Regions from separate parts of the Homo sapiens genome. Here region 1 is linked to region 2. The links come from fine-mapping of genetic effects on gene expression. Tissue or cell type: caudate. Region 2 holds a variant in brackets; the other region holds the start of a gene. All regions are shown on one strand. Distances are between the middles of the regions.

Evidence for each region. PIP is the estimated chance that this variant, and not a neighbour inherited with it, causes the effect.
Region 1: it holds the start of C2orf66, and the variant in region 2 is the best candidate, but not a certain one, in a credible set for the expression of C2orf66 in caudate (GTEx, PIP 0.89).

Annotation. Positions count from the first base shown.
Region 1 is chr2:196,807,357-196,811,660 of GRCh38, forward strand. C2orf66 (chromosome 2 open reading frame 66) reads right to left here and starts at 1,999. Exons shown (of 3, transcript NM_213608.3): 1 at 1,858-1,999; 2 at 68-266. The coding sequence starts at 1,980. The coding sequence ends at 87.
Region 2 is chr2:195,909,745-195,913,744 of GRCh38, forward strand. DNAH7 (dynein axonemal heavy chain 7) reads right to left here. Exons shown (of 65, transcript NM_018897.3): 25 at 283-451. Among named protein-coding and RNA genes, the nearest start is that of DNAH7, 160 kb to the right of the region's middle. The variant C/T (reference allele first, on the strand shown) is at 1,821.

The DNA of each region.
Region 1 (4,304 bases), 900 kb after region 2:
TCAAAATATCTACTTTATGGCTGACTTGTATGTTTGGACAGATCCAGAATAAAGGGCCAACTTTTACCTGAGCTCAGAAGAAACTTTCAGCCTTTGAGATAATTGTGAAAGGAGTTTTTCTGCTCTTCATAATCTGCAGATGCAGAAGCAGTAAGTTCTGACTGGAAAGAGAGAGGTCTAGGATTTTCATTCGTGGGGAAAGGATTTGGAAATGTTCCAAGATCAAGACCTCTGCCCTTAAAATATGCCTGAAGCCTTCTGAAAAACTAAAGAGAGAAAGAAAATGGTCAATGCCAGATATAAATGAAACACCAAAAATAAAGGTGTTTTTCTTCCCTCTATTTTTCCCCTGAATTGACTTTAAGGCTAATCTAAGAGGCAGGAAATACAAAATCTAGAAATACAAGTACATGCTTCAGCTACTTCTCCTCCCCTCCTCTGTACCTTCTTTCTGACATTTCAACCCTAACCAAAATAATTCACCATTCTTACTGAAAATTGAAGGAAGACTATGGAGCGGCACCACAGTGGAAAGATTCATTGTGAACTATCTCTGAGTACTAAGGTCAAAGGTGAAAATGAACTCCATAATAAGCAGCTCAGTATCTCCTCTTCCTTAATATGAGATCTCTGTTGTTGCCTTCTGCAATAGTTTCTTTTCAGATTTCCATTAGGAAATGAACACAGAAGATGTGCGAAGTGCTACTTGCTTTGATGCAGGACAGGCAAATCCCAAAACTGGAGCTTAGCACAGGAGGGTTCTTGGCTTTGCCCAGAAAAGAATTTAAGGGCAGGCTGGTTGTGGTAACAATCTTTTATTGAAAGGTACTGCTCCTGCCAGAACAAGGCTAATTCATAGGTAGTGCACCTAGGGCTGACAACATATGGGCTCTTATCAACTGTGTTTTTATCCACTTTTGAATATATGCAAATTAAGGGATGGGTTAATGCAAACAGAAGGGAGTTATTTAGAGCTTTCTAGGAAAGAGGTGGTAACTTTTGGGTCATTGCCATGGAAAGGAGTGGTAGCTTCCAGGTAATTGCCATGACATTTGTAAACTGTCATGGCACTGAGGGGAGGATCATATCCTAAGAGCAATGAGAGCAGGTCGGGACCACTTTTGTTGCCATCTGCTGGTTTCACCCAGTGTTTTCACTTTATCCTGTCTGGACCAGATCCTGTTTTCGTCAGCAGCTGTGACCAGAAAACAAATCCTGCTGGTCTCTTATCTCAGTTTATTTTAATCCTATGTTGTTATATTTCCCATCATTCACTTTAGAAAAACCATATTTCAAAATAGTCATGTCAACATGTTTATTGTATTTGGCATTTTTTTTAAAGAGAATGTTTACTGATCTTTTGAATTCTATTTTATAGATAACTATATGTTGAAAATATGTCCAGTAAATTGATACCCATGCAGGGTCAACTTTCAATTTTTGCAGCTGAGCTTGGCAATCTCTAGTTATATGATAACTTGTTTTATCATCAGTTCAATCTAAGCTATGCACGAGCAATTCCCTGTTACACTCTTTATTTTTTATATGTATTAGAAATCAAGGCTACAAAGTCAATGTGTATATAAGATCAGTTACAAATGAATTGTACTATGTGTGTATAAGATTGTTTCTAAATATAAATTTGTTTCTCTTTACAGAAACAAATGTAAACTGGCCAGAGAAACAATAGGTTGCCAACCACTAGGGTAGTAAAACTCTGGTCCAATCCTGTTGGAGAATTTTCTCAACCCTTGGTAGCCCCCTTTCCACTACGTTCTGGAAAACAGAATGCTGTGTGCGTAAATCCAAAGAGGCATTAGTTCTATCCTGAAACCCAGGCCCCAAGTGTGTTCTTACCAGATCTCTGTTTCTGGGGTTGTTGAGTGGCTTCCATTTGTCCTCATTTCTTACTGTGGCTCCATTCACATGCCCAAGCAGCACCAGGGCAACACATAGTAGCAGGAGAGGTGCTCTGGTCATGGTGGAGTGAAGCTGAGTGAAAGAGGGGATGCGGGAGCTGTCAATGATCATTGAGAGAGATAGTCAGGGAAGAGAGAGAGAAAGAGGAAACATCTGTAAAGGCAGACAAGGAAGGAGAAATAGCATACTGGTTTATCTAAGTTTTACAGCCATCTTTTTTCCAGATTGACTTCTAAATGAGGACCCCAAAATGCAACTGATTAGCTTAAAGTAGCCCATGATAATGAGAATGTTATACAGTGATAAGCAAAACAATTATGGAACATAACATAGAAAGTCTGAATATGCCTTTTTCATCTTTGGAAAAAAAGTACTTTGTTGTCTCCAAAGAAACTGCAACTCTTAAAATAACAAAAAACAAAACCTTAAATTACTTTTAAGCCTTAAGACAGCAGTCTTTAAAAAAAAGAAAAGAAAAAGAAATTACTTCAGATACCGAGCTGAGAAATACACCTTATACACACATCTGAGACAGACAGACACATACCACAACAGTGTGAGTAGAGATTGTCTTCCACTCCAAGGTGTGAAAGAGAAACTGAGACACATTGTAGAAAAGGCTAATAAAGCTTACCAGGAGTTTGGTTTTGGTTGGTCCTCCTAGGTTATCCTGCCTATAATTGGCAAGGCAATTCATGGGTACTTATAACCAATGGATTGGGTGCCAGTGGAAGTCACTGACTTGAGCAGGGGAGTTAAAAAATAATGATTCCTTTTTCATCCAGAACACAAAGATTCTTGAGAGTCAGATCTTCAAGCTTCTTCAGGGATAAGCTTATTTGCCTTAGAAATGCGGCAGCCACTCCTTGAACCACGAACATTTTATGTGGATTTTATAAAACACACAAAGCACTTCCACACAGCAAAGTGATTTTCTCCTTTTTTACTTTTAAGGGAAGGGATACACCTGGAAATATGATGGATTATAGCTGGAAATATGATGATGATTATCCCACCTATTAGAACGTTCTTTTGGAGATATGACTTTTTCAAGTTAACAGCATTTTTTGAACAGAAAATTCTTTTGTGAGAGACAAAATTACTCTTTTTGACCTATACCTTGTACTTTTTTCTGAGAACCTCAAGAAGCTTTACAAGTTTTAAATAGTGGCATCATTTATCATAATATCTCTTCAAAATAGAGCAAGAAGATAACACATGTTTCATGGAAAAAAGATAAATTACTATACCTACAACATTCCCTTGCTGAATAAATGCCATCTGTAGAAAATGGTAGGCCGAGAAATTGGACTTGAGTTGTGACGTTGCTTTGGTTCCAATGATTTAGAACAAAATTTAGGACAAGATATTTATTCAGAAGGCTGGTGATCTCGACTGGAAATTAGCAAACCTGGCTATAGTCTCAGTCTTGCCATCTTGACCCTGGGCAAGTTACTATGACCTCTGCCCTTCAGTTGTTCATTTCCTCTGTTTATTCATTCAGCAGACTTTTACAAAGTGCCTACTATGTGCCAGGTACTGCAACAGGATTTGAGGATGAAATGGTAAGAATAATAAATACAGTCCTTGCCCTCATTAAAATAGAGTAGTGGGCAAGACAAACATTAATCAAATCGTACAACCAAATGTGTACATATAAGTGAACAATCATTTCTATGAAATAGCGAGTGCTATGAAAGTATAGAAAAAGGGAATTTGATTCAGTCTGAGAGCCAAGGAAGTCTTCTGTGAAGAAATGACCTTACATCCAGTCAACTGAATAGGAGTTACCCAGGCAACCTGAGGAAGACAGAGGGAGAAGTGTGTCTAAAAAGGTGAACAGCTGTGCTAGGAATGGGGCACTTTAAAGGTACTGAAATTATGCCAGGCGTAGAGGGAGCAGGTGGGATGCCTGACGCAAGATGGGGCCGGAGAGGTAGTCAGATTATGATCTTTAGGCTACAAGTAATGCTAACTGATTAAAGGGTTTTAGGCATCAAAGAAGCTTGATCATACTTGCATTTTTAAAAGGTTATTCTGGTTGCAGTGGGGAGGAGAGACTGAGCTAGAAAAGAGGGCTGCGCAAAGCCAGTTAGGTGGTTACACAGTAGTCCAGGCAGGAAAAGATGTTAACTTGGATTAGGGCGATGTTAGCACAGATGCACAGATTATGGGTAGATCTGAGAGAGATTTATAAGGGATTGTTAATGTACTGGGTACTACGGGGAGGGGGGCTAAGGAGATGGGAGTTTCAAAACCAATTGCTAGGTCCGTGGGTTATGCAGGTGAGTGGGTTACAGTGCCATTCACCAAGATATCAAACCGAGGCATGGAGGAGTGAAGATCATCATTCTGTTTGGAATGTGTTGAGTTAGAGGAGGCTT
Region 2 (4,000 bases):
TTCTCAAACTCTTATCTGCTCCAATGTATTTAAGGGACACCACTTATTCCAACCAGTAATAATGACTTGTTACAGTAGGGACTGGAGAGGAAAGTAGAGATTCTCTGCAAATAGGGTTTTGCTATAACCTTATTTCCTTTAAGAATTATTGAGATAGTGCTTCAATTTTTACTTTTACTTAAGCTACAGTAAATCTTTTACTTGTATTCAATTATGTTGCATCATAAATAACCATCTCTGATCAGTTATCCTGTTGTAAAGAAATGAGGAGTTAATTCAAACCTTAAAGAATTTTCCCAAAGCCAAATAATCCAACCCATCAGAGCAGTTGAAAACAACACATTGTTTGGCTACAGCTTTTGCCAAATCCTTGGTAGTTTCAGTCTTCCCAGTGCCAGCTGGACCCTCAGGTGCTCCTCCAAGGTGCAAATGAAGGGCTCCAAATAAGGTTCTGAAACATATGAAATAGACATTCTTTGTAGAATAATGTGATTTTTTTTCCATTCACATGCCAAGAAGAGAAAAAGGTTAAATTGAGAACCAAACCTCCAGCTTCCTCTTTGATAATTTCTTCCTTCCCAGTAACCTCTGAAAATCTCTGATAGTTCATTACTTTGTCTGTTATTATATTTTATTTCTGAATAGCTATATATATGCCACATTGAGAACAAATTCACTTTTGAAATTTAATGTTGATTTCTGGCCAATATGAAGAATTCAGTTGACTTTGAATCCCCTAATTCGCCAACTGTAAGCATATGGAAATGTTACAGATAAGAAAACAAATAATAATTTAAAATACATGGCCATTTTTGAAAGAATGAAAAGAAAATTACCAACGAAGAGGGAATGCAAAGCCGGAGAATTAGACACTAAAAGATTGTTTCGGGATCAGTATATAAATAAATGAGTATATTTATGCTCAGATAGAAACAGAAAATAAACCCTCAGAAGTGAGCAATGTGGGGAGCTGGAATGGATCCACCTATATAAATCTAGAAGTCTTGAAAGGCTGTCTTGTCTCTAAATGGAAACTAAAATCACTCCAGCAACCTACTGGAGAGAGACAAAGAAGAGTCAATTATGGAAGAGACAAAGAAGCCTATCCTTCATGCGGGGCCTGATGAAAAGCTTGTATCATTTGTGCAGGGAAAAAGAGGTCCAAATTTCTACTAGTCATGGGCACATTAATCCAAAATGATAAATTAACATTTTGTTCTGAACCAGAAAAAAACTCTAGAGTCTTCCTCAGAGATAAATATGAAACTGCTCCTTATGGACACCTCCACGGGTGACAACATGCAAGACTGCATGGGGAAACAATCACTACTAAAACCAGCTCACAGTTCAAACAGGAGAGAGAGATCAGAGTTAGGAGTCAGCCTTGCTGTGGCAAAAGCAATGGACAAAGAGTGTTATTATATAAATGGCGTCCTACTCTCTATGGTATCCTGGCGGTCTGTTAAATGAGATTTTAAATATAAAGCAATAGACATCAAAAAATTGTGAGAGAAAAACAGAAGCCAATTTTATAAATGAGACAATTTGAAACTCTAGCAATAAAAATATAATTTAAAAACTCAGTGAACAAGTTAAATAGCAGAATAAACATAAGGAAACAGAAAATTATGCACTGAAAATTACTCAAAGAGATACAGAGACTGAATGTAAGAAAAGTTAAGAGACATAGAAGGAAGAAAATGGGGAAGAAGCAAAATTTAAACAGCAATGACTGATAATTTTTCAGAATTCAAGAAAAACATGAATGGAAAAAGGCCCAAATAGGATAAATAAAAACTAATCTACATCTAGTAACTTTA[C/T]AGTGAACATCAACAATAAAGAGAAATCTTAAAAACTATAACAGAGAAAAGAAAATTACCTACAAAAGAATAAGAATAACAGGGACTTACCAGCAGTAGCCATGGATGCCAGGAGAATAACGAGTTTTAAGGGCTGAGGGAAAACTACTGTTCATCTACACTTCTATACCTAGCTACTCTGTCATTTAATAACTGAGCAAAGACACACAAAGAAGCATTTTTAGACAAAGACTGATAGAGCTCATTACTTGCAGAGCCTCCCTGGAACAATTACTAGAAGACATTGCCTAGTAAGGGGAAGAAAATTAAACCAAAAGTAAGGCAAAGCAAGAAGCACTGGTGAGTAAAGAAAATGATAAAAATTTTTGGTAAACCTGTATATTAATAGTAAAAAATATGTAACACTCTATTTAATAGGGTTCTTTCTTGGAATTTTGACTAAAGCCCCAAGCTGAGAACAATAAATACCATCTCATCTTATCTTATAGATGGTGAAGTTGGTTTGGAACATTAGCTATCATCAGGGCATATAAAAGTTAGATAAGAAGACCGTAAGTGAGTGATCAGGAGTGAGGACTTCTTTGGAAAGAATCATTGGTGTGTTGTGTTTTTTACCTCTCTCTGTATGGTGGAAGAAAGAGCAGCACTTTTCCCTCTCCCAAGCTAACAGAGGGGCCTTTGAGACTGCTCAGAAAACTCGACACACCATCTGCCCCTTGGATTTTCTAGAGCACAGAAACTGAGTGCTGACTCACAACCGAAAACATTTCAAGCTGAAAAGATGCCTGGAACTTCTCCTGATGGCAGAATGGGAGAAAAGAAACAGAGAGATGTGTTCCCACTGCTGGCAAAACAAATGTATGTCTATCACCTGGCCAGGTCCAGATCCCGAGAGCCAGATTTGAGTCACACTGAATGGGACCCTATGCAGAAGGCCCATCTGAAACAGGAGAAAATCCCCAAAAGAGGGTCTGTGTGTGGTGAGCCTCAGAGGCTGAAGCAAAAGCCACCTGCGGCCAGCCCGAGAAGGCATTTTCCACAGGTGGGAGAATCCGGTCACTGGAAGGGCTTTAAGGAACCCGCATAAACATCCCTTGGAAGATCTGGCACATCTGGGCTTGTGCCATCACCAAGACATCACTATACAGCCAAGAGATAGTTGTCACACAAGACACTTGTCACATATAAACCTACTTCTTTCTGTTTTCTCCCCTTCAACCTCCAATACTGGGGGAAGCAAAAGATAAGCTATTGAGGGATGAAACCAAGGACAGGGATAAAAATAGCTAAAAATTGAGCACATCTATTTTCCAAATTCAGGCTCTCAGCCTGAGTCAGGCTTGAGTTGAGGGAGAAGGGAGCTTTAAATTGGATGGGAGCTATTATTAATTTTGATTAGCTGTAAGTGGACTTTTATTATTTTAAAAAATGACACTTATAATTAATATTTTAGAGTGACCAGAAAAGCTAGGGAATCTACCCTAGATTTCATTCAGGAATGAGAAATATTTATTTAATAGAGCAACTTTAAAAAAAACAGTAATAAGAAAGAATAAAATTGCTTTCTGCTTGCATCCTAAAACTGGTTTACTCAATAAACTACTTAAAATGACTAATTTTCTGGAAAGAAATTTAAAAACAAAGTTTAATTTAGTATTTGGAATATAAGAGATAGGAACCTGGAGTTAAAGTAGTTAAAGACATTTTATTATTCAGAAAGGGAATAGAGATATTTATTAACTTTAGGCTTTATTAAGCAAAATAGGCATTCTTTAAATGTAAGATAACCTTTAAGAGAATAGAAACAGCATCCTATATCATAGCCCATATCATATCCCACGTTATATCCGTATCAAATGAGATAAATGAATAAAGAAAACTCAATCACTTAATAAAAGATAGGACATGAGAAAAACAAAGCAAAACAAAATAAAATGTTAAACTTGGAGAATATAAAGCACAAAATAAGATGATTTAAAGAAGTCCAAATAGTTTATGAATCACATTAAATATAAATGTGTTATACTTGGTAGTCAGTCAAAGAATACAGAGCCAGCCCCTCTTCATTTTCATTTGGCTAAATCTCCTTATCCTTCAATATTAGATCTCCTAATATAAGATCTCCATCCACATGTTTTTGTTGCTGTTGTTGTTTGGTTTTTTGTTTTGAGACGGAGTCT